4 linked regions of the Homo sapiens genome follow. The protein of the gene in region 3 purifies or fractionates together with the protein of the main gene of each other region. This does not show direct contact. Each region holds a gene or a part of one and is shown on either strand. Other genes may lie near its edges.

Region 1 (6,279 bases), on a different chromosome or scaffold from region 3:
GGTTGGTAGTGCAGGCTTCCATCTCTTGCTTGAACTTTTCGTAGCATTCCTACGGTTTCTTTCTAATCTGTCTTCCCACTGCTGTCCAAGAGATCTTTCTAAGACACAAAATCTGACCTTGTCATTGCCTTCTTTATAAAATGTTCCTGGCCCACTGCTTTGGCAGTGATTCTTAACTGAGATTTCATATATCAGAATCATGGCCGGGCGCAGTGGCTCACACCTGTAATCCCAGCACTTTGGGAGGCTGAGGGAGGTGGATCACTTAAGGTCAGGAGTTCAAGACCAGCCTGGCCAACAGGTGAAACTTCATCTCTACTAAAAATACAGAAATTAGCTGGACATGGTGGTGCACGCCTGTAGTCCCAGCTACTCAGGAGGCTGAGGCAGGAGAATTGCTTGAACTCAGGAGGTGGAGCTTGCAGTGAGCTGAGATCACACCACTGCACTCCAGCCTGGGCAACACAGCGAGATTCCTTCTCCAAAAAAAAAAAAAAAAAAAAAGAATCACCTAGGAAGCTTTTTTCACTGACACATGCCCTCATCTTGCTTCTGGACGTTCTGATTCAGTAGGTCTGGAGTGGGGCCTGAAAGCATAGAGCAGTGGTTCCCAACTTTGGAAGAGAACCCAAAACAGATGACCAGAGACTCTGGTTCGGTTGGTCTGGAATGCAGCCTGGGCACTGGGGCTCTCTAAATCTGCCCAGTGATGCTAATGTGCTGCCAGGGTTGAGAATCACCACTGCGGAGGAAGGAAGAAGGTTCCAGATTTGAGTGGTTTTGGTACCCACCCCTGGAGCACAAATGGCCGAAAGTCCATCTTCAGAGATGTGAGGCCATCCTAGACCCTTCATGATCTAGTTCTGGATAGCACATAGGATTCATTTTTCATCCAACTTTGATTAATTGATAGTAGCCACCCAGAGACTATGCTGGGTCGGACAATGTGTGTAGCCTGAGAGAGGATTAGAACCCATTAGTGTGGGCGCCATAGCAGGAGATGGGACAGGTGTGGCATGTGTGTCTGACCTTGTCTGTACCTCTTGAATTGTATGTTCTGGAAAGGCTATGCTACTGCATCCCTTCTTCCCTTTAAATAATGGGTTCTCCTTTCTGGAATCCATCTACTTTTGGGGTTTTAAAACAACCATTAAAATGTGTTTGTGTGTGTGTATATATACAGTTCAGAACCATTGCCCTCTGCCCTGGTAGATTAATAACACCCTCCTCTGAGTTATGCCTGTATGTTTTAGTTCATGTCACATTGTTATTTAATCTGTTTATCTCTCTCTCCCCCCCTTTCCTCCTACTAAACTGTAAGCTCCAGCAAAGGCAGTAATTATGTCTCAGGGCCTCAATGGTATCTGACCCTTAGTTGATACTTCATAAAAATGTGTTGATCATGATTGAATTCTTTATCACCTCATTCCTAAATTTAGTGATTGTGAAAGATGCTAGGATAAGTCCTCAAGAATTTAGTTTTTTGAGTCGAATTTTTACATCTTTAAGTGGAACAATTATATACCTATACTCCAGGCCCATATTTCCATTACTTGCTGGCTATTTTTGTCTTGTCGCCTCAAATAGGTATCTAAAACCAGATTTCTATATTCTGCCCCCCGATAAAAACTATCTCCAGATCATCTTTATTTCCTCCCTATTTCTTACCACTCCCCTTCCCCCCAACATCACGCCAGTCTTCAAAACTGACAGCTTCAAAGAATTAGTTTTCGCTCCCTGCTTAAATGATGACGGGATATTCTGGCAGATAAAATAATGTTTTCATCTATTGACAATGTCTCACTTGAAATAGAATAGTCGGTTTTACTATGTTCCAGGAGGAAATGACGTATTTATGAAATGCGCCCTTTGCCTTCTCCTTCACAGATTGATGCTGCCTCATTCACGCTGACATTCTTTGGTCAAGGATACAGCCAAGGCACTGGTACAGATAAGAACAAACCAAATATCAAAATTTGTACTCAGGTGAAAGGACCAGGTATTTCACATATCACTTAAGAATGCTTGGGAATTTTATACTCTTAAGCTATAAAGTACAATGCCATTACAATATATTCTTTTTAAAGCTTAATTGTTTTAGAAATACATTTGTACAAATTAAGTAACTTAAAATTATTCTGTCAAAGGAAGATTGAAATTATTGATATAATCCAATTTTATTAGTGCATCCCTCCCTCTGGCTGTTTTTGGAGTATGATTCAGTAATTCAGAATGGCAAATTTTAATTAGTATTAATAGGAAAAGGGATTGGTTGATATTCACCTGTTTGAATCTCATATGCAAGTAGTGTAATTATAATGTCAGTCAAATCTGTGCTCTAGGATTTCTTTAGAGTCTCTGAACACCCTGACATTGTTTGTAAAATATGTATGCACACGTGCACTTTTCAAGGGAAGGGAATGGCTTCTGATAGGTTGTTAAAAGAATGTTGCCCAAAACGTTCAAGAACTTTTGCTGTACATTTTACAGAACTATGCAGAGACAGACAGGTCCACTTGTGAACTGTGGTATAATTACTGTCAGAGACAGACAGGTCCACTTGTGAACTGTGGTATAATTACTGTCAGAGACAGACAGGTCCACTTGTGAACTGTAGTATAATTACTGTCAGAGACAGACAGGTCCACTTGTGAACTGTGGTATAATTACTGTCAGAGACAGACAGGTCCACTTGTGAACTGTGGTATAATTACTGTCAGAGACAGACAGGTCCACTTGTGAACTGTGGTATAATTACTGTCAGAGACAGACAGGTCCACTTGTGAACTGTGGTATAATTACTGTCAGAGACAGACAGGTCCACTTGTGAACTGTGGTATAATTACTGTCAGAGACAGACAGGTCCACTTGTGAACTGTAGTATAATTACTGTCAGCCCTTTTAGGTCACAGGCTATAATTTTTTATTGAGACGGGGTCTCACTATGTTGCCTAGGCTGGGCTCAAGCAGTCCTCCTGCCTCAGCCTTCTAAAGGGTTGGGATTACAGGCATGAATTGCCATGCCTGGCCCACGGGGGATTTTAATCAAGCCAGATGATAGTATGTTTCCATCTTGCCCTTTTCTGAAATTCCCACCTGACTTTTTAAGGTAAGTTGACTGTATTTTCATTATTTGACAGGATTATAAATGCTAATGTTCCGTTTGTTTATAAACATTTTTTTAACTTATGTTTAGTCGTTATTCTTTAAGAAAAAATTGAGAGGATTTTTTTGTTGTTTTTAAGTGAAGTGTGTGAATACAGATAGGGATCGGCTCAGTGTACAATAGAGAAACAAAAAACCTAGGATCATTGGCTTCAATGATTGTCAAGAAGCAGTGCAGTGCAGTGGGTGGAGTGTGGACTCTGGAACCAGCTGCCTGGGTGTGATTTTGGCTCAGTCACTACCTGTTAGTTTGGACAAGTCACTTAACCTCTCTCTCTATGGGATAAAAGTAATATTGACCTTAAATAATTGTTATGAAAATTAAATGAGTTTAATAGACCTAAAGCACTTAGTACAGTTCCTAACACTTAATAAATACTTTCGATATGTTATTTTTGTTAAGTGACCAGAGTATCTATTGAAAAAAATCTGCACACCTAGAGTAAGATATAAAATCTACCATTTGATTTTTGATGTTGTTGAATGGGTACTTCATGATTCCTTTCTTTTTCCCTGATCAACTGTTTTCTGCAGAGGCTGGCTATGTGGCTACCCCCATAGCTATGGTTCAGGCAGCCATGACTCTTCTAAGTGATGCTTCTCATCTGCCTAAGGCGTAAGTTTGGTTTTCTTCCAATTAGAAGATCTTTTTTATCTATGTTATATTTTAGCTTATTTTGATTTGATTTTCAGGCTTTGGGTTTGCATGTAAGCATTTATAGTTCAGTTCCTTTGCTTCAAAAATATAGGTAAATTAAAACTGTGAGAAGGACAGCTTCTTACCAGCCCAGAGTTGGTCTCAGAGGAACAACTGTGGAGGTAAATGAGAGGAGACAGAAAAGTTGGAGAGCCATGAGTTAACTTCAGCCCTTTATAAAGATACCTCAAGTCCAGAGTCAGCCACTCAAAAAAGTCCCTGTTGTTAATAGTATTACTAGGAGCTTCCAATCAGTGCCTAACTATACCCAGCTGGCAGTAGTAACCCTGACTGACACCAGCATAAATGGAACCATGGGATCCTGGCTAGATGATTTTCAGACGTACTGTCTTACTGGAGCATTTAGCTGTCCCCCTAAAACTAGGCCAGCTTTTCAAATGAGCAGAGGCCTGCTGCTGAGAAGTAAACCAGGCATGACCTAAAACAGGATTAATAAAAGTAAAATTTGTATATAGTAAAATCTAATTAAATTTTTTCAAATACCTAGGTCCCCCTTGAAAATATTTAGCATTTATGAATGTTAGCTATTATATTTTTAAAAACTTCTTTTTCATCCAATTTAAGTTCTGTTTACACTTTCATAATAATTGATTATCTAAATTTATTCCATTCGGGTCTTTCTTTAATCCCCCTAAGTCTGAGGACTGTCCTTGTAAACAGCAGCGGTTCTTCGGGGTGATGGCGCACAGTGCACCCACCAAACACATGCATAGAATGGAAACAGTATCTCCAGGAACAGAGCCAGTCTAGATAGGGTTGGCTGTGGTGCAAGTTTCTCCTGACTAATAGCTACTTGCTCATTTGGCTGATTTTAGGAAGGAATCAAAGGTAGCCGTGATTACCATGAAGACTTGGGTTTTCAGGGGTTCTGTAGCAATTTGATAGTGAGGCCTGTGAAATAGGAGACTGGAGAGGAGCTGAGTGCACTGTTTTCTCTTGTTATTGTTTTATAGGGGCGGGGTCTTCACACCTGGAGCAGCTTTTTCCAAAACAAAGTTGATTGACAGACTCAACAAACACGGTATTGAGTTTAGTGTTATTAGCAGCTCTGAAGTCTAAACACTGGAAGAATTAACTGAAGTCATAACGTGCGTGAATTAACAGCTTCTCTATTTGATATTTGAAATTCTTCTGTAAGCCTGTCTGAGTGTATGTGGAAACGATTGTCAAATCTAAAATATCTATATATTAAAAAGTAGGAAATTGTCCTAGCTTACCCTAAATTTCAAATCTGAGTTGATTTTGTGATTTTATTGCTTATAACAGAGAACTCATATTTGACATATTTTTTTCATTGATGTGTTCCTGGTAGATTTTCACGAATGAGCTGGCAGGTCTAATGGGGGAGGCGGCGTCCCAGTCTGTGTTGCAGCAGCATTCTCATCGGGGGTGCGCACACCATCGTTACTGTCGGGCAGTAACTGCCGCTTGCCTTGCCGCAGTAGGAGGGAAATCTCACCTTCCTTCCACATACTGTCTTGAGCCTTTGCTAAATTAAACTGCACTTTTTGCTATTTTTGCCTAGTTTTTCGCCAATCTACACTGATTTTGGACTGTTACCTAAGTTGAAAAATAAAAGGTTGTCAATCGAATGGTGGTTTAATGTTTGGACCTGCCGATGTATTTGTATAGTGGTAGAAACATGCTGCTTAAGTGGCCTAACCTGTTTCTTGCCAATAAGTAGGCTTATCATTTTATCTTTACGTAATTCTATATCTGTGACTAGGTTTTTAAGGATACAGCTTATAAGTTGCTATCAATTTTCACTACCTAAGCAGAATTTTTCTCTAATTTACTTTTTGTATTTTAACTAGGTTTTACATGGAAGCCCTAAAATAAGGCAAAAGACTTTTTCTTTTGTAATAAGCATATAATAAACACGTATATACATAGCAATCATGTTGTTCATTACCTAAACAAGACAGCCACTCCTTTATGGAATTTCTACCAAAAAGTGAGGAACATAAAATATTTAGGAATATTATTTGTGTTGGGAGACCCTTCTGCTCTGCCTGTAAGAAGAAGAGGGGGCGGTATCTAACTCAAAGAGGCCTGTAAGGAGAAGTGGGGGAGGGTATCTAACTCAAAGAGGCCTGTAAGAAGAAGCGGGGGGTATCTAACTCGAAGAGGGTGTTCTTGGTGGTAGTATTCCCCACCCTAACTCTGCTTCCTCTGTCCTGGCCTGGTCATCACAAGATACAGATCCTCAGCTGTGCCCTAACTTGTGGGACCTTAGAAAAGGTTTTATCGGCTGTGAAATTAGAAAGCAGTACAGGAGCAATAGAGCCCACGACTAGCTGCACATCTGAATCACGAAACAGTAACAGGTTCCTCCGTGCCTGCAGCAACTTGCGTTCAGGAGGGCGGGAGGTCGAAGCCTCTGTGTTTTTGATATG
Region 2 (7,151 bases), on a different chromosome or scaffold from region 3:
GAAAAAAATAGGCCCAGTTCTGTGGTACTCCCAAAGATCCTCTTACAGTGACTTTTCTCTTCTAGGATCCCATCAGGCTCCTTGGAAAGTGCTTCTACTTCCGAAGCCAACCCTGAGGGGCACTCAGCCAGCTCTGACCAGGACCCTGTGGCAGACAGAGAGGGCAGCCCGGTCTCCGGCAGCAGCCCCTTCCAGCTCACGGCTTTCTCCGATGAAGACATTATAGACTTGAAGTAACAGAGTTGAATCTCATTTGCCATCTTTAGTTTTCTTATGGAGGTTTATACTCTTTAAACAGTTCTGATGTAATTTCTCAACAAAATGTGGCTTTTAGCCTGTCAGTGATCTATTGGACCAAACCTTCTGCACACTCGGCCAGTTCCCTCTCCAATGTCCGGTGCCATCTTTCCTGACCTTTGTTTCTTTCTGTTCAGGAACCATCAGTCCCCTTGTAATAAAGGTGGTAGATTTCATTGAGGTTTTAGATTGAAACTTTGAATAAATCAAAAATACTCATTCTTATTTACTGCAACCTTCTCATATTTTATATACTTAGATGGAAAATTATTTTTTCATTACAGTTTTGATTTATGTCACATAATGTGTTTCTTTTATAAAGAAAAGTCGTTGCTTTTTAACTTTATTATAAGTAAGTTTTTTTTCTGCACCTTTGGCCCCGGTTGCTGTTTCAGTTCACCGTGATTGGAACCAGCTGCATTCCTGCCTGTAGACTTTTGAGAAAAGTTGAATGGTTAGATCTTAGAAGCTCCTCCTTCTTCCCTGCATCTCATGAAAAATATTAAGGCATAGGAGCTTGTCAAAAGTCTTCAGATTATTTTGTGTGGTTTTATTGTTACTCTGCAATAATGTAACCAGAGAACAGCTACTCCTTGTGGTTAAAAGTATTCTCATTGTAATCCCAGTGCTTTGGAAGGCCAAGGTGGAAGGATCCCTTGTGCCCAGGAGTTTAAGGCTGCAGTGAGCTAAGATTGCACCACTGTTCTCCAGTCTGGGCAACAGAGGGAGACCCTGTCTCAAAAAAAAAAAAAAAAAAAAGAAAAGAAAAGAAAAAAAAAAGAAAGCATTTTCAAACTCCTCCTTCTTTTTGAGTCCCCCTCACTCTTTCACATAAATGATATGAAGATAATAATTTGGTTTATCTGCCTTTCCTGGCTCCCTCTCCAGTGTGAACAGAAAGAAATGTGGACTGGGCCAAGTGCAAAAGAAATAGTGAAATCTCAGCCACTAGCCAAGGGGAGATCCAGTTTCACTAGCATTGTTTGCAAATATTTTAATCTGTGTGAAGAAGGTATTTTACCTTTGGCTTTAGTCTAGCCAATTCAATTTTATTCTGTCTCTTCCTACTTATATTATTACATTATTCATCAAAGGAAACTTCCTGTTACCCCGTTAAAGCAGCTCAGAAGAGTTCTTCTGCAGGCTTTTTTTTTTTTTTTTTTTTAGACAGAGTCTTACTCTATTGCCCAGGCTGGAGTGCAGTGGCACGATCTCGGCTCTCTGCAACCTCCACCTCCCAGGTTCAAGCCATTCTGCTGCCTCAGCCTCCTAAGTAGCTGGGATTACAGGCACGCATCACCACACCCAGCTAATTTTTGTATTTTAGTAGAGATGGGGTTTCACCATGTTGGCCAGGCTGGTCTCGAACTCCTGACCTCGTGATCCGCCCACCTTGGCCTCCCAAAATGCTGGGATTATAGGTGTGAGCCACTATGCCCGGCCAGCAGGCCTTCTTTGTGAGTGTGGAGAACTGAGTTTGACAGGACCTTGGTCTGACAGATTTTATAGAAGTTTGGGTCGTACCTCCTAGTGGGCCTTGCACACTGTGGGGAAAGTTCCCCTCTCTGTCTTTTGTACAAACAGATCAGCATGATAGCCCAAGCTGAAGGTTGCTTGGTTCATCTTTGGCAGAAGGCAAGAGTCAAGAGTAGTAAAGACAGTGCTTTTTAGGTATACCCAGATGGGGCTGTTTATAACCAAATGTGTCTGCTCATATTCTTTGCAGCAGTTAGCATGCCCATTCTTCCTTTGTGTGTTTTATGCCCTTTTCCTATATAGGGGGAAAAAAACACTGTGTCTCAACCCCACCAACAGTTTAATGAATTATGTTTTATTATTCTTGCTTTTCAAATAAGGAAATAGGCTTAGGAAGGGGCAATGGTTTGAACCTGCAAGTTCTTTGACTCCAGAGCCCTTGCTTTCCCCACGTCTGCCATGCAGAGCCAGGCTCAGTGCCTTGTGTCAGCTGGATCTGGCTGGTGTTTTTCATGTTAAACTAATTTGTAAGCTTTATGAGCTTGTATCTGTGTTTTTCCTTTTTTTCTGGAAGTTTCTTGCTTCACAGTGTAGCATAAAAAAAACCCAAGGACTATTTTAGAGCATTCTTCCAAATCAGCAGCATTAGAGCCACCCACAATTTGACAAGAGTCACAGGTCTGAGGAGTGATGTAGCAAGGGCAAGAGGTGGACCCTACTGATCAGGCTGATGGTGCTTTGCCTATGAAAAGGGGGCAGGAGGCTGTTCTGGCAACATTATTTGTCTACAAAGGCCAAGAAGTGAGTTCTGCACACTCACGGGAAGGGAAGCCATCGGCCACAGGGTAGGAGCACCCTGCCTACATAATCCTTTCTGTGTACCCGACTGGCTGAGTCACACAGAAAATCATCTAACTGCAGTGTCTGCCTATGGAGTTGGAGGCATTGATCCACTCTGCACACACCAAGTGCCTCCTCTCCAGAGGAGGTCATGTCCATTGGGGGAAGGACGGAAGTAAACAAGGGATCACAAAGCAGTGATAAATGCTGTGATAAGAATACACATCTAGTGCTCGAGTTATCAAGCATTAGATGCTGTGGGAGTACAGAAGGGCAGTTGCCTAAGTCTTTAAGGATAGGCTTGTGGTCAGGACTGAAAAATGTTGGTTGCTAGAACCATCAAGTGACTGCAACATATCAGATGACTGTCTTCATCATACCGGTTAGCCTTTGAGTGCTTCACATGTCTTATATACATTACCTTGCTTCACAACTCTCCTGGAAGATAATGGTCATCCCCACTTAGAGATGAGGAAACACAAGGCCCAGAGAGGGATTACAAGCCAAGCCTCTTACTCCCATGCCCTGGCTCTTTCCAGAATTACACCAGCATTCCACCACAGCTGCCTGCACCCAGAGTGTTGGGTATGAATCGGGTACAACTGGTGAGATCCAACAGTGCCTCATCATTCGACTTGGGTGCACACGGGAGAAGGTGGCATTAAAATCCACAGGGAACTCAAAATATGGAGGCAGGTAGATGAAGATTCAAGAGTCAGGACTCCCTGTGAAGTGAGTGACACTTAAGAGGGGGAGTGGAGCCCAGATCTGTCACACATACGGCGTGGGGGACCCCACCTACCACTGGTCCTCAGCACCTGGAGACCCGAGCCTTCAGCAATCTGGGAAGCATGAAAGTGGGTTTCGGTGCACAGGGCCACGCCTCCGCCGCCAGCAGCCCAGCGGGAGCGTCTGACCAGTCTCGCCCTCCGAGAGGAGAGAGAGGCGGCCCAGGACGGTCTGCTTAGAGGCTCTCTCCCCTGCAGAGCTGGGCCCAGGCATAGGTCAGACGCCTCCAATACAGTCCCCAGGGCAGCGATTAAAGCGGAGCAGGAACTGCAGACCCGACCGGGCAGGACAGGTGCAGCTTCTCGGAGTTGGGGGCGGGAAGTCTCGGGCTGAGGCCCACGTGCTTCGCCTTCGCCCCGCCTCTACCCTCATTGGTTGAAGCCAGATTGAGAGGAGGTGCCAGAAAAAAAACTCCTCCCTCCAACCTCATTGGCCAGCTCAGTTCTGAGGCAGCTCTCTGGCCCCGTCTATGGGCTCGCACTACACTCCAATTGGGTGGTTGTTCTCCCAGACGGAAACTCCGCCCCACCTGTACCTTGGACCGCTCCGCCCTAGGGGCGGTTCCAGCGCGCTTCGCTAATCGGTTCTATGCTCCCATTGGTCTGCTTTAATGTGAAGGGCGGGTCCTAGCTGATTCGCTAGCCCCGCCTTGCGTTCCTATTGGCTGCTCCTGCTCTGCGGTTCCGATCCCGCCCAGCACCGTCCCCCACCCCCCGCCGCCCATTGGCTGCGAGAGGCCGGTGCGGGCCGCACTCGCAGGGCCCGTGGCGGTTCAGGCGCCAGAGCTGGCCGATCGGCGTTGGCCGCCGACATGACGCCCGAGGACCCAGAGGAAACCCAGCCGCTTCTGGGGCCTCCTGGCGGCAGGTGAGCTCCGGGGAACCCGGGCCCGGATGCGGCCTCGCCCTCCCGCCCCTCCGCGTCCGCTCCGCTCACCCTCGGCCCTGTCCCCCCAGCGCGCCCCGCGGCCGCCGCGTCTTCCTCGCCGCCTTCGCCGCTGCCCTGGGCCCACTCAGCTTCGGCTTCGCGCTCGGCTACAGCTCCCCGGCCATCCCTAGCCTGCAGCGCGCCGCGCCCCCGGCCCCGCGCCTGGACGACGCCGCCGCCTCCTGGTTCGGGGTGAGGCCCCGGGCTCGCTCCTCCCGCCCTGGGACCCCACGCCCTCCTCTCGGGACGGGCATCGGGACCCTCCGCCCCCCACCCTTCCCCTCGGGACAGGCATCGGGCCCCGCCGCCACCACCTTTCCCCACGAGACAGGCATTGGGCCTCTCTGCCCCCCATCCCTTCCCTCGGGACGGGCATCGAGCCCCTCAGCCCCCACCCCTCCCCTCGGGACGAGCACCGGGCCCCTCAGCCCCCTACCCCTCCCCTCGGGACGGGCGCGGGGCCCCGGCTCTTTTACCTCTGAGCCCGCGGGGAGTGGGTGGAGGGGGAGGATGGGCTGCGGCTTCGGCGCCCCCTCCTCAGCAGCCGCCCGCCTCCAGGCTGTCGTGACCCTGGGTGCCGCGGCGGGGGGAGTGCTGGGCGGCTGGCTGGTGGACCGCGCCGGGCGCAAGCTGAGCCTCTTGCTGTGCTCCGTGCCCTTCGTGGCCGGCTTTGCCGTCATCACCGCGGCCCAGGACGTGTGGATGCTGCTGGGGGGCCGCCTCCTCACCGGCCTGGCCTGCGGTGTTGCCTCCCTAGTGGCCCCGGTGAGTGTCCCGTCTCTCGAGTGTCCTGTCTCGCGGCCTGAGACCGAGGGGGAGTGGGACAAACCGCTCCCCAGGCCTGGGGGCGCGGCTCCCCCTGGCGGGACCTTCTGGGTGCCAGGCTTGAAGTCCCTGCGTTATCTCGCGGTCCCTCCCGTCGACCCTGGGAAGGATCCTACTGTTCTCTCCATTTTACACTGAGGTCATGACATGCAGTCTCGGAAAGGTGAAGTCCTTTGCCCAGGCGAGGTCCACAGCTAGTCAGAGGGGAAGCAGTTGCAGGAACCCAGGGTTGTCCCACTTAGCCGTGCCCCTCTTTTGCTCTGCAAACCTGCGGATGATCCACAGGAGCCCACTCCCTACATTTTGGTTTTCATCCCTGGCTTCGGGTCAATGACTGCAATTAGCAGGAAGTTCCTGTCCTGATTTCTCTTGGGGCAAAGGCTGCTGGCCTCTGTGTTCCCCTTCCCTTCTCACAGGCCAGCCCCTCTGGCTTCCCCATCTTCCCCCTTTCCCCCTCCTGACCCAGGCTGCCCACTTGGGAGCCCCGAACATCTGGGTCAAATCCTGGTTCTGCCACTAACCTGAGCAGAGTGCCTCCCTGGGCCTCAGTTTCCTTCTCTGGAAAACAGGGATTATGGCATTAGCCCCTGAGGTAGTGGTCAGGATTCAGTGGGACTTTGGATAGACAGCCCCTGGCATGGCTTGTAGAGGACTGGATCCTGACAGCTTGGTGACCCATGAACTGCCCCCAGCCATGGGCTTGGACAATATCTCCCCCAAGTGAGGTTGAAAGCAGCCACTCAGGCCCCTCCCTGGGTGCTCATTTCACCAACGTTTGCTAACCGGCAGCAGCAGCTGGACCAGAAGAGGGTGGGGAAGAAGCTGGGCCTTTTATGTCTTTGGTTTTTTTAACTGGGCAGAAACACACCTGTGTTAGGGGCCTAAGCTATGGAATAACCTTAGATGCATGGGTGAGGGCCTGGTGGCCTGTGGGCCCAGGAGGGAGCTAGTGGCAGCCACTGGTAGTGACCGAGGCAGAGAGTTCGTGCTTCTAGTCCAAGGCCACCACTCAAAGCGTGGGCCCTGGGCTAGGATCCTGGGTGGGCGTCACGTGGAGCTGGTTAACAAGGTGGAATCTTTCGCCTGTCCAGACCTACTGCATCGGAATCTATGATTTATCCAGGGTGTCTGTGCACATTAAACGAAGGCTTGAGAAGCTCTGTGCCCACCGCCTCTCGTCATCATATGCAGCCCTCTCCGTTACCCTTAATCCCCTTTAAACACCTGCCACAGATCTTTCAGTGGTGGGGACCTGGGGATGGCTCTGCTCACCTAGGCAGGTTCCACTAAGGGGCTTCAGGGCCTGCCGTAACCCCCTGCAAGGACTTTCCTCAGCTCTGAATGGCTGAGACCTTTCCATTTTAAGAACTCTTGGAGCCTGAGTAAAGCCTCATCTTTTTTTTTTTTTTTTTAATTTTTATTTAAAAATTTCGGAGTTTCGCTCTTGTTGCCCAGGCTGGAGTGCAATGGTGGGATCTTGGCTCACCGCAACCTCCACCTCCAGGGTTCAAGTGATTCTCCTCCCTCAACCTCCTGAGTAGCTGGGATTACAGATGTGTGCCACTAGGCCCAGCTAATTTTGTATTTTTAGTAGAGATGGGGTTTCTCCCTGTTGGTCAGGCCAGTCTCAAACTCCCAACCTCTGGTGATCTGCCCGCCTCGGCCTCCCAGAGTGCTGGGATTGCAGGCATGAGCCACTGCGCCCAGCCATAAATCCTCATCTGATTGCTGGCAGGTCTACATCTCCGAAATCGCCTACCCAGCAGTCCGGGGGTTGCTCGGCTCCTGTGTGCAGCTAATGGTCGTCGTCGGCATCCTCCTGGCCTACCTGGCAGGTATAGTTGTCATTATCTCTTGCTTCCTGTTTGTGGTCATGTGGCCATTTTACAGATGTGTAAACAGAGGTTCAGTGAGGTCAAGGGACTTGTCTGAGGTCACATAGCCAGTGCCCAACATGCCAGGCTCGCCTTCCTGGGACCTTGGGATAGGTGAGTCTT
Region 3 (7,050 bases):
TTTAGAACAATGACAGAATCACTGAAATAAGTTCATAGCTCCCCAAGGGAAATACTTAGGAAGATAACTGTCATTTTAATGTTTAAAATAAAATGTTTTTTATTTTATTTTAATTATTTTGTTATTTTATATTGTTTTCTTTTTCTTTTTTGTTTTTATTTTATTCATATTTATAGACAGGGTCTCTCTCTGTCACCCATGCTGGGGTGCAGTGAGGAGATCATAACTCACTGTAACCTCAAACTCCTGGGCTGAAGCAATCCTCCTGCCTCAGCCTCCCAAGTAGCTAGGACTATAGGTGCACACCACCACACCTGGCTGGTTTTTAAACTTTTTTTGTAGAGACAGGGTCTTGCTATATTGCCCAGGCCTGGTGTATTTTTTAATAGCCATTCTTACAGCTTTATAGATATAACGTTTGTATTTGCAGTCATTCATTCTTGGGTAAAATCTCATAGCTAATGATGGTTATAATTTAATTTATTAGGATTATCTTATGGCATTATCTCTACAACAAGAACAGCAGAGCCAAGAGATCAATTGGGAACAAATCCCGGAAGGAATCAGTGATTTGGAACTAGCAAAGAAACTCCAAGAGGAAGAGGACAGACGGGCTTCTCAATACTATCAGGAACAGGAACAAGCAGCAGCTGCTGCTGCTGCTGCTTCTACACAGGCTCAGGTAAAAACTAGTGTTTTGAGTCTTAAATGTGATGATCATGGCTGGGTGTAGTGGCTCACACCTGTATTCCCAGCCCTTTGGGAGGCTGAGGCAGGCAGATTGCTTGAGCCCAGGAGTTCGAGACCAGCCTGGCCAACATGGCAAAACCCTATCTCTATTAAAAATACAAAATTAGCCGGGCGTGGTGGTGGTGAACACTTGTAATCCCAGCTACTGGGAGGCTGAGGCAGGAGAATTGCTTGAACCTGGGAGGCAGAGGTTGCAGCGAGCTGAGATTGTGCCACTACACTCCAGTCAGGATGATAGAGCAAGACTCCTTCTCAAAAAAAAAAAAAAAAAAGATGATCACTTTAGCAGTAAATTTCGCTTGAGATAAAAAATTTTAAATTAGGTGTTAACTCTTCAATTTTGTTAGGATTTTAGCACCTATGGGTTTTATGACGTTGTCCTAAGCTTGTATCTCGTTTAGTAAAATGTTTTCTCCTGAGGTTCTGATTTTCAAATTTATTTTTAAAATTCGTAATAGCTGCAAAGAAAATAAGCCAATTTGGACGAAGTCCTTTCAATCAACTAGAGGGCAGTATGAGGTACTACTAGAAAAAATAGACTTTGGAGCCAGATAAATGTGGATTTGCATTTCCTGCTCCTGTCTCTCCTTCTAGTTGCAACCTCTTGGATGACGTCCTCTACCTCTCTTAGCCTCATTTTCCCTATCTGTAAAATAGAAGAACTCTTAAGTTTGTTGTGAAGAACAAATAATATTAGCACTTACCCCAATTTTTAACATGTACTAGGCATTCAACAAAGGTTGACATCTCCCTACTTTTCACTTTCTGTAGTTAAACGGTTTAAAGCACTGAAAATTTAATGGTGGGATTCTACATGTTAAATCTCATTTCATTAAGTTAAAAATATTCCCCTTTTTTATGTTTATACCATGCCAGACTGCTGTTCCTGTTTTTTTTTTTTTTTTTTTTTTTTTTTTTTTTTTTTTTTTTTTTTTTTAAGACAGAGTCTCACTCTGTTGCCCAGGCTGGAGTGCAGTGGCGCAGTCTCGCTCATTGCCAACCTCTGCTTCCTGGGTTCAAGCAATTCTCCTGCCTCAGCCTCCCAAGTAGCTGGGATTACAGGTGTGTGCCACCATGCCCAACTAATTTTTGTATTTTTAGTAGAGATGAGGTTTTACCATATTGGCCAGGCTGGTGTCAAACTCCTGACCTCAAGTGATTCACCCACCTCGGCCTCCCAAAGTGCTGGGATTACAGGTGTGAGGCACCACGCCTGGCCTAAACTGTTCATTTTGATTCAGATACATAAGAAATTCTGATTTGGGCATACAAGAAAGCAAGATGCCCTTTTAAGTCTCATAAAACTAAATATAGAAGTCCCCATTAAAATAAGTATAAAATTTCTATTTCTAGCTCAAATATTGACTACTCCAAGCTTAATAGTTAAATCCTACCATGTTATGTGTAGGTTTTCACTCAAAAAAGGTGTCTTATTTCACTAAATACACTTATTCCAAACTCCCAATTCTCAGGGGTTCTTTTCTCCTTTTAAAATCTGTTTATTATGGCTGGTGCGGTGGCTCACACGTATAATCCCAGCACTTTGGGAGGCCAAGACAGGTGGATCTCGAGGCCAGGAGTTCGAGACCAGCCTGGCCAATATGATGAAACCCTGTCACTACTAAAAATATAAAAAATTAGCTGGGTGTGGTGGCGTGCACCTGTAGTCCCAGCTACTCGGGAGACTTGAGGCAGGAGAATCGCTTGAACCTGGGAGGCAGAGGTTGCAGTGAACCGAGATTGTGCCACTGCACTCCAGCCTAACAGAGTGAGACTCCATCTCAATAAAAAAAAAAAAAAAAAAAAAAAGTCTGTTTATTATGGAATTTAATGAGGTTTTGAAGAACTATTATAGTTTATCAAAAGGTGTCACTTTCCTTAACATTTTCTAAACTTTTAACAAATGTGTCTTCAATTTGACTTTAGGCAATATAATCTTACGTTATTTACTGTTTGAAATACCGACTTTGGGAGGCCAAGGTGGGCGGATCACAAAGTCAGGAGTGTGAGACCAGCCTGGCCAACATAGTGAAACCCCGTCTCTACTAAAAATACAAAAAGTTAGCCAGGCGTGGTGGCAGGTGCCTGTAATCCTAGCTACTTGGGAGGCTGAGGCAGCAGAATCTCTTGAACCCAGGAAGTGGAGGTTGCAGTGAGACAAGATTGCACCATTGCACTCCAGCCTGGGCGACGGTGCAAGACTCTGTCTCAAAAAAAAAAAAAGGAAAAGAAATTTTATTTATTCAGAATAATGAATACATTAATTATATCCAGAATGGTAGCGGTAATGGCTCAGATACCATGTAATATAACAAATCTGTATGCCAATAGCTAGCTTCTTTTTCCATCAGTGATTCCTTCCACTGTTACAGTTTTCCTTTCTAGATAACCATGAGTAAGTCCCTCAGAATAGTTAGAGTAATTTCTTGCTGTATATTTTTCTTAAAGCAGGGCCAGCCAGCACAAGCCTCTCCATCAAGTGGAAGACAATCTGGGAATAGTGAACGTAAACGGAAGGAACCACGAGAAAAAGATAAAGAAAAAGAAAAGGAAAAAAATAGCTGTGTTATTTTGTAACAAGTGTTGGCTTCTGTTGGAACCACCTATATGTCTTGAGAAACAAAACCACAGGAGGAAAGGAAGAAAAACCGATCAATACCGTCTGTGCCTGATTTCCTAATGGATTTTGTTCGTTTTTTCAGGGGAACGGTTGTTACTTAGTTACAATCAGACTTTTTCAAGTCACACAATACACTCTTTATGAGCTGGAGTTTCATGTTACAAGTTGGAAATGCTGTGTGTTGACATTCATGAAAAATACTGCACTTGTAGCCAGATTAGCAAATCACAGCAAATTTTGTGTCATAGTGACATTCATAACTCATATCAGTTAGTAAGCTATTATATCTTCTGTTCTAACAATGAATGGAGGTAATTGATTTAGTCTGATTCCTTCCTGAAATCTAAATATTAGCACAATAGTTTCTGAAATTTTACAATGTTAAATTATGATCTAATTCATGAGAAACCACGGGTTTAACATAGGGATTCAAAAAAACAAAAACAAAAGAATAGGAATAAATAACCCTTAATTGTATATTGGACTAGTTCAGCCCTTAAACAGCTTTACCTTTATTTAGGAATGTACATTTTAGGTATTATCTTGATCATGGAGCTTAGTTTTAATTTAGATAGCAAAAATAAAGATTTGTATTTCTTTTCCAATAGCAAAAAGTTACATAACACTAATACTTATAACCTATCAATATCAGATATTAATGACTTTGTAGTGTTGTAAAATTTTGAGGAATTTTGGAGTCTTTATCATAGGTAACCTGGACCACAGTTACTATTTATTGACAATGTGATTGAGTGTATGGAGGAAAGCACAGTGGATGCTAGGCTTTGTAAATATGGGGATGTAGAAAAGCAGATAGTTCAGTGTCTACCTTTTTCTAGAACTACCTTGAACCTTAAATTTTAAGTCATGTTCATTGCTAGAAAATTAAATGTACTTATTAAAACCAATGAAAAAGCACATTTCTGAAATGAAGTTAGAGATAATCTCTGTGTCTTATAAAAAGACATTAATAAAAATCTGAAAGGGCCGGGCGCAGTGGCTCACGCCTGTAATCCCAACATTTTGGGAGGCCAAGGTGGGCGGATCATCTGAGGCCAGGAGTTCGAGACCAGCCTGGCCAGCATGGTGAAACCCTGTCTCTACTAAAAATACAAAAAATCAGCCTGGCATGGTGGTGCGTGCCTGTAGTCCCAGCTACTCAGGGCTGAGGCAGGAGAATTGCTTGAACCCGGCAGGCAGAGGTTGCAGTGAGCCGAGATCGCCCTGCTGCACTCCAGCCTGGGTGACAGAGGGAGACTCCGTCTCAAAAAAAAAAAAGTCTGAGAGTAGCTAAGAATTTATGTAAAAGCAATCAGAGTTTTTAATTTATGGGAACCAAATAAAACTATAACCTCATAGTGTTTATAAGAACTCAGAAATAATATTTATTTAACTTTATTATGAGGCCACACATATTTTCCTGTGTTTCTATATATAGTTTGGAAAACTATCCTTAATAGTCTGTTTTATATGCCTTATATTTAAAAGTTTGTTTTAGTTATTTTGAAAGACTATTGCTGCTGCAAATAGTTGTGTGCTTTACATTCTAAGCTTCAGTACATTTATTTAAGAGCATCATAATCTGACCTGAGCATCCACTTGGAGAGTGTTTTTTTTGTGTGTGGTCTGGGGTGACAAAAGACCACAAAAATGTGTGGTCTGGATTTTTTCAACTATGTCATTAACTTTATGATCCAAGACCAGTTATAGGATGAATCTGTATGTAAAAATAGAGTCTTATTTATGGAAGGAATTATTCTAAGGGAAAAATCCAGGGTCAAGCTGTATCTTTTATGTCCTTTATATTGCATGTCTATTTCTGTTACACAATTTGTTATTTCTTCAAATTTCCTATGGTAGCATGATAAATCATCAAAGAACCTGTTTGGGATATAAAACTCTGATAGAAAATATTTAATGAGTATCTTGATTATAACCTAGAATATGTATACGTTAGTAAAATAACCAGATATACTACAGAACTCTCTATTGGCTCAAACAGGTTGACCTCAATCCAAGTTTACTCTTGATATCACTCTGTTGGCTGAAGGAGGTAACTCAAACCTCAGGGTTTGTTTTTCCCGGGACAGATAGTAGTGATAGTGCATTATATTTGAATAAGAAAAACAAACCAGTATACCTTGAGAAATTTTAAAAAGCATAGTTGAGGCATATTTTTTCATAATTATATACTTATCTGTTTATTGCCCATGGAAAATATATGTGTAGAAGTATTTCTTCTGTTATTTGTTACTATCTTCTTAATTTGTTCCAAAGAAAATGCTGCCATACTGCATTCCCTCTGGAAGGAAACAAAACAAAACAAAACTCACTCAAAACCAGCAGTGCTGCTATCAGATAAGTAGATGTCAATGTATACTTACAAGGAAAAACTAAAAAATGTAATGTGTTAATTCAGCCTTTTTCTATGTAATATTTCCAAGTCAGACTTTCTTACATTCCTGGAATTTACTTTGATATACCAAGAATAATAATGATAAAATGTTTGCTTTGATTACTGTGGGGGGAAAGATGAAATGTTCAATTGTATTAAAACAAACAAGCTTTTCAGAGATACTGGTTTCCTGCCCTTGAAGGGTATAAAGAATTTAGATCATGCCTGTAATCCCAGTACTTTGGGAGGCCGAGGCAGGTGGATCACCTGAGATCAGGAGTTCGAGACCAGCCTGGCCAACATGGCAAAACCCTGTCTCTACTAAAAATACAATAATTAGCCAGGCATGGTGGCGGGCACCTGTCATCCCAGCTACTTGGGAGGCTGAGGCAGGAGAATCGCTTGAACCCAGGAGGCAGTGATTGCAGTGAGCTGAGATAGCACCACTGCATGCAAGCCTGGGCAATAGAGCGAGACTCCGTCTCAAAAAAAAAAAAAAAAAAAAAATTAGAGCTATTGTGTCTTTATTTTCTTAAATTTTGCCCAAGGTAACGTTATATATCCCACCACTTCATTGCTGGTTTGGGTACATAGGATTTTGAAAGTGGTATATTAAAGTCTTTCCTTCCAAGTATTTTGTAATACTTGAAAATTCTTAGATGTATACTGCTAACAAAAGTTAGAACTTAAACATTTTTGTTTTTATCATTTATAGCCTAGATTAGGGACATATTTGCATCAACCAAATCATCATTAGATTTGAAAATAGGCAGATGAATGAACAAATATGGTCATTGCACTTTCCTTTTACTTTCAGAGTCTAAGTATATTCCTTAAGGTTAGTAACCAGTCTTTATTAAAAATATAAAATTTTTCTTCATGTCTAATCCCATTGCATCCACAATGCTGTGATTTATAGTACATGATCAACACTTAAAAGTACTTTACATATGTGTGTTTCTGAAGCAAGTTTTCATGACCTCTGTTAGATTCTCAAAAGAATTCAGAACTTCAATTTAAGAATCACCATTTTAAGAATACATGTGTACATATACACATTAAGCAGTATAAAGCAGCTAAAATTGGCATTGGTTTTACACTGGTGCAGTGTGCTTAGGTAAAGTAACTTCTTCCATGTTTCAAGGTCAGGTTCAGAGTTGAATGAAGTGTAGATTTAAATTTAGGATTAGGCTTTGGAATATATCTTGTTTTTATTGTCTCACATTTCTGATATTGACTACTTATCCCATATTCTGTTTCAAATTCTTTATCATATTTCAAGTTC
Region 4 (4,148 bases), on a different chromosome or scaffold from region 3:
ATGAGGATACTTCCCCGCCCCATCCCCACCACCACCCCGTCTGAGGCAGGAAAACAAGCACTTTTTTTTTCTTTTTCTTTTCTTTTTTTTTTTTTTTTTGAGATAGAGTCTCACTTTGTCACCCAGGCTGGAGTGCAGTGGTGCGATCTCGGGTCACTGCAACCTCCGCCCTCCGAGTTCAAGCGATTCTCCTGCCTCAGCCTCCCGGAGTAGCTGGGATTGCAGGCACTTGCCACTGCGTGCTGCTAATTTTTTGTATTTTTAGTAGAGATAGGGTTTCACCATCTTGGCCAGGCTGGTCTTGAATTCCTGACCTCGTGATCCACCCGCCTCAGCCTAACAAGCCCTTTTTTTTTTTTTTTTTTTTAAGAGGGTCTCACTCTGTCGTTCAGACTGGTGTTCATTGGTATGGTCATGGGTCACTGAAGCCTCAACCTCCTCGACTTAGCTCAACCTCTCGCCTCAGTTCCCCAAGTAGTTGGGACTATGGGCGTGTTCCTTTTAAACATTTTTTGTAGAGATAGGGTCTCATTGTGTTTCCCAGGCTGGCCTAGAACTCCTGACCTCAAGGAATCCTCCTACCCGTCTCCCAAAGTGGTGAAATTGCATACACGAGTCACTGCTCCTGGCCAATGAGGGCAACTTTTTAAAAAATAACATTCATCTGCTCTCATTTTTCTAATAAAACATTGCCATTTATTATATGGCTTTATTAGTGTTATCTTTGTTGCAAAAGTATATGTAATAGTCTCTAAAGATGGTTAAGAGTTTGTGTCACATCAACTGTATCAATAACCTATTTTGTATTTTATTTTCCCAATATTTTAAGATGAAAACTTCCAAATGTATTTAAAAAGGGGATATGATATGTTGGAACAGCTGTATATTGTCTCTCTAGATTCAACAACTGTTAACATTTTGCCATAGTTGCTTTATTTTTCTTTTTATATCTACTGTTTTTTTTCTTTCTTTGACTGAACCCTTTGAGAGAAAATTGCAGACATCATATTTTACCTGTAAACATTTAAGCATGCAGCTCTTAAGAATGAAGATATTTTTCAGCCAGGCACGGTAGCTCACACCTGTAATCCCAGCACTTTGGGAGGCCGATGCAGGCAGATCACCTGAGGTTGGGAGTTCGAGACCAGCCTGACCAACATGGAGAAACCCTGTCTCTACTAAAAATACAAAATTAGCCGGGCATGGTGTCACATGCCTGTAATCCCAGCTACTCGGGAGGCTGAGGCAGGAGAATCGCTTAAATCCTCGAGGTGGAGGTTGTGGTGAGCCGAGAACATGCCATTGCCCTCCAGCCTGGGCAACAAGAGTGAAACTCCATCCCAAAAAAAAAAAAAGAACGAAGACATTTTTCTGTATAACCATAATACCATTATTATACCTAAGAAAATTCATTTTTTTAAATTTATTTTTAATTTTTGTGGGTACACTGTAGGTGTATAAAAAAATAAATTGTATAATATTGAATATCAAGTTTAAATTTCCCTAGTTGTCACTAGAGTGACTATTGTAATTGTTATTTTGAATCCCAGTCTAATCAAGTTTATCAATCAAGCACATTAAACAAGTCTTTAATCAGTCAAGCCCCTCACCTGTTTTTTTCCCCTTGAAACTGACTTTGAAGAATCTGAGCCAGTTTTTTACAATACGTCCTGCATTCTGAATTCATATGATTGTTTTCTCATGTGTGCTCTAACTTGATCCTCTATTCCCTTTTTTCCTGTAAACTGGGAATTAGCATTATTAGATTCATTCTAAACATTTTTTGGCACGAATACAGGACATGACTGTACTTTATAATGCATCATATCAAGAGGCACATACTGTAAAGATATCTTTATTTTAGTCTGTCGGCTTAACTGTGATCAGCTTGGATGATTAGAGCTTGTTCTGTACAGTATTAAGTAGTTACTATTGTAGAAACCTGTAGATTTTCCAAAATTCACTAAAATATGAAAGGATTGAGTAGTTTATTATTCATACTGAGAATACTTAATTTATTTTTATCTAGAGATGTTTTTATCAAAATAAGAGCAAAAAGTAAATACAATTTTTATCCGTAAAAACTCTAAAATCTTTCAAAAATCTGTTTAAATCTATATAGTTTTATGTTTTGTATTTCCTACTTATTTAGCAGAAATGATGAAGAAACTGTTCTGATGGCCTGCTTTTCTGTCCTTTTCCTACTGCTTTAAACATTGATTTTCTTTTGTACTAAATCATATAGCCAAATATTGTTTAAGTAAGTCAGTTTTAGGAAATGCTTGTGTTGCTGTTGAATTATAAAAGCTGAGTAAATTTCAGATTAAACTTTAAATGACTGTGAAATAAGACATAAACTAGTTAATGGTAATTTGCTTAAAATGACTTGAGATTATTATTGGAAGTTTTTATTAATTGATACAGGTAAGAATTGATATTTAATAAAATGTTCTCATGCTTAGACTATATTACTTTTCGGTAGAGAAATTAGTATTTTGCTGTAATGTGTTATGAAATACATGTGATATCCTAGTTTGTCTACTGACACTGGGGTCTTGAATCTTAAAAAAAGGCCTCCGATGAAGCAGAGGAAAGTGGATCACAGGGAAAATTGGTGGAAGCTCTCAGGCAAATGAGAATTAATCATAGGGGAAACTACCGACAACTTCTGGAGGAGATGCTGACTAGTTACAGGCTAGCTAAAGTAGAGGGAGAAGAAAGCCCTGCTGAACCAGCTGCCACAGCTACTTCTTCGAACAGTGATGCTGGAAACCCAGTGACAATGCAGGAAAGCCATACTGAATCAGAAAGTGGTCTTGCTGAATTAGACAGCTCTAATGAAGATGCAGGGACAAAGATGAGTGGTGAAAAAATATGACTTTCCTTTTTGGTAATATTTTTGTGATCTTTGATGGTTTTTAACCTAGGAAGTGTAATGTATGCATTTATATAACTGTTTTGTTATTTGAATCTTGGAAAACTAGTTTTATTATATTCAGATAGCCTTGTTTTTTAAAAAGGCCTTTGCATACACCTTTATGAGATAGTGTAAAATTGACTATTTATAGTACTATGGATTTAATGAAATTATATGTCATTTCACATTGTATGCCAGAAATTAGGCTACCAATTATGAATTAAAGTCAGTAGTTAAATTAATACTAGATAGAATTAGAAATTTTGATTAGAGAGATTATGCTATATTATGGAAAAACTTGTTAATGTAGAATTATACTGCTTCATATTATTTTACCTATTAGTACACTCATAGTTAGCTTTGTAATAAATTTATGTTTTCTTTAATAATTTTAGTTCTTCAAAGAATGGCTGATGCTGGCCTGTAATTTTTCTTTCAAGGATGATAATTTGTGTGTTGTTTGATTTGTTTATATTTTACATCTCTGTAGTTTTATTTTTAGAAGTTGTGAGATATTGGATGTGTGGCTATTTTTCCTTTCTCTGTATTCTTTATGAAACATAACTTTTGAAAAACCTATGTATTATTCATACAGCTTTGGTTTGTATATTCTGTATAGCCTAACTACACACATCAAAATGTATGTCAACCAAGTGTTTAGAATGAAATTATAAGTGTTTAAGTCCAAATAAAGCATGTGATGTGGAATAATCTATGCATGTTGTACTTATTTTTGAATTAATTTTTTAAAAACAACCAAGTTTGGTATATTGGAAGAATACCCATTAGAAATTCATTTGTATTTATATAACATTTAGAACACTTTTGGCTTACCTTTTTTCATTAACAAAAAGGAAAAGTTTAATATTAAAATATATGTGTTGCATACTTAAATCTATTCTTTTTCTTATCCATCTTTTGTGGTACAAAATATTAATCTTTGGACATTATGGGCACACATTAGACATGTGAGAAAATTGCCACAGTGAGCATTTTAAAGATTGCAGAATTGTCCATTTTGTTACAAATTTTTGTTAGTTATTAAGAAATTGAACAATTATGGGCTATTTTTAAAATAGTGGCAGATGAGAGTTTTTGTTTAAAGGGATTTTTAAATTATAGATTTGTCACATAGGGAAAAATATTTTTTAAAAATTATTTTATAACTGTAGAACATTAACTTTTCGTCTTTACGTTTATATTTATATCATGTGTCTAAAGTTGCTTTAAG

The links.
Region 1: the proteins of MINDY2 (region 3) and SCCPDH purify together in Homo sapiens (affinity purification with mass spectrometry; 3 studies listed by BioGRID and IntAct, with this or other methods). This does not show direct contact.
Region 2: the proteins of MINDY2 (region 3) and SLC2A8 purify together in Homo sapiens (affinity purification with mass spectrometry; 3 studies listed by BioGRID and IntAct, with this or other methods). This does not show direct contact.
Region 4: the proteins of MINDY2 (region 3) and PPM1B purify together in Homo sapiens (affinity purification with mass spectrometry; 3 studies listed by BioGRID and IntAct, with this or other methods). This does not show direct contact.

What each region holds. Positions count from the first base shown.
Region 1 is NC_000001.11:246,762,359-246,768,637, forward strand, and holds the end of SCCPDH (saccharopine dehydrogenase-like oxidoreductase), read left to right. Parts: intron 1-1,887; coding exon 1,888-1,999; intron 2,000-3,699; coding exon 3,700-3,781; intron 3,782-4,836; coding exon 4,837-4,942; 3' UTR 4,943-5,779; downstream 5,780-6,279.
Region 2 is NC_000009.12:127,393,018-127,400,168, forward strand, and holds the start of SLC2A8 (solute carrier family 2, facilitated glucose transporter member 8), read left to right. Parts: upstream 1-4,151; 5' UTR 4,152-4,213; coding exon 4,214-4,269; intron 4,270-4,358; coding exon 4,359-4,521; coding exon of another isoform or gene 4,522-4,887; coding exon 4,888-5,094; intron 5,095-5,154; exon of another isoform or gene 5,155-5,296; coding exon of another isoform or gene 5,297-5,317; intron 5,318-6,889; coding exon 6,890-6,989; intron 6,990-7,151. Other genes in the region: GARNL3 (GTPase-activating Rap/Ran-GAP domain-like protein 3), read left to right, coding at 66-237.
Region 3 is NC_000015.10:58,851,284-58,858,333, forward strand, and holds part of MINDY2 (ubiquitin carboxyl-terminal hydrolase MINDY-2), read left to right. Parts: intron 1-487; coding exon 488-682; intron 683-3,198; coding exon 3,199-3,327; 3' UTR 3,328-7,050. UniProt on the Homo sapiens protein: Hydrolase that can remove 'Lys-48'-linked conjugated ubiquitin from proteins. Binds to polyubiquitin chains of different linkage types, including 'Lys-6', 'Lys-11', 'Lys-29', 'Lys-33', 'Lys-48' and 'Lys-63'.
Region 4 is NC_000002.12:44,227,841-44,231,988, forward strand, and holds the end of PPM1B (protein phosphatase 1B), read left to right. Parts: intron 1-2,152; coding exon of another isoform or gene 2,153-2,161; exon of another isoform or gene 2,162-2,572; coding exon 2,573-2,878; 3' UTR 2,879-3,632; downstream 3,633-4,148.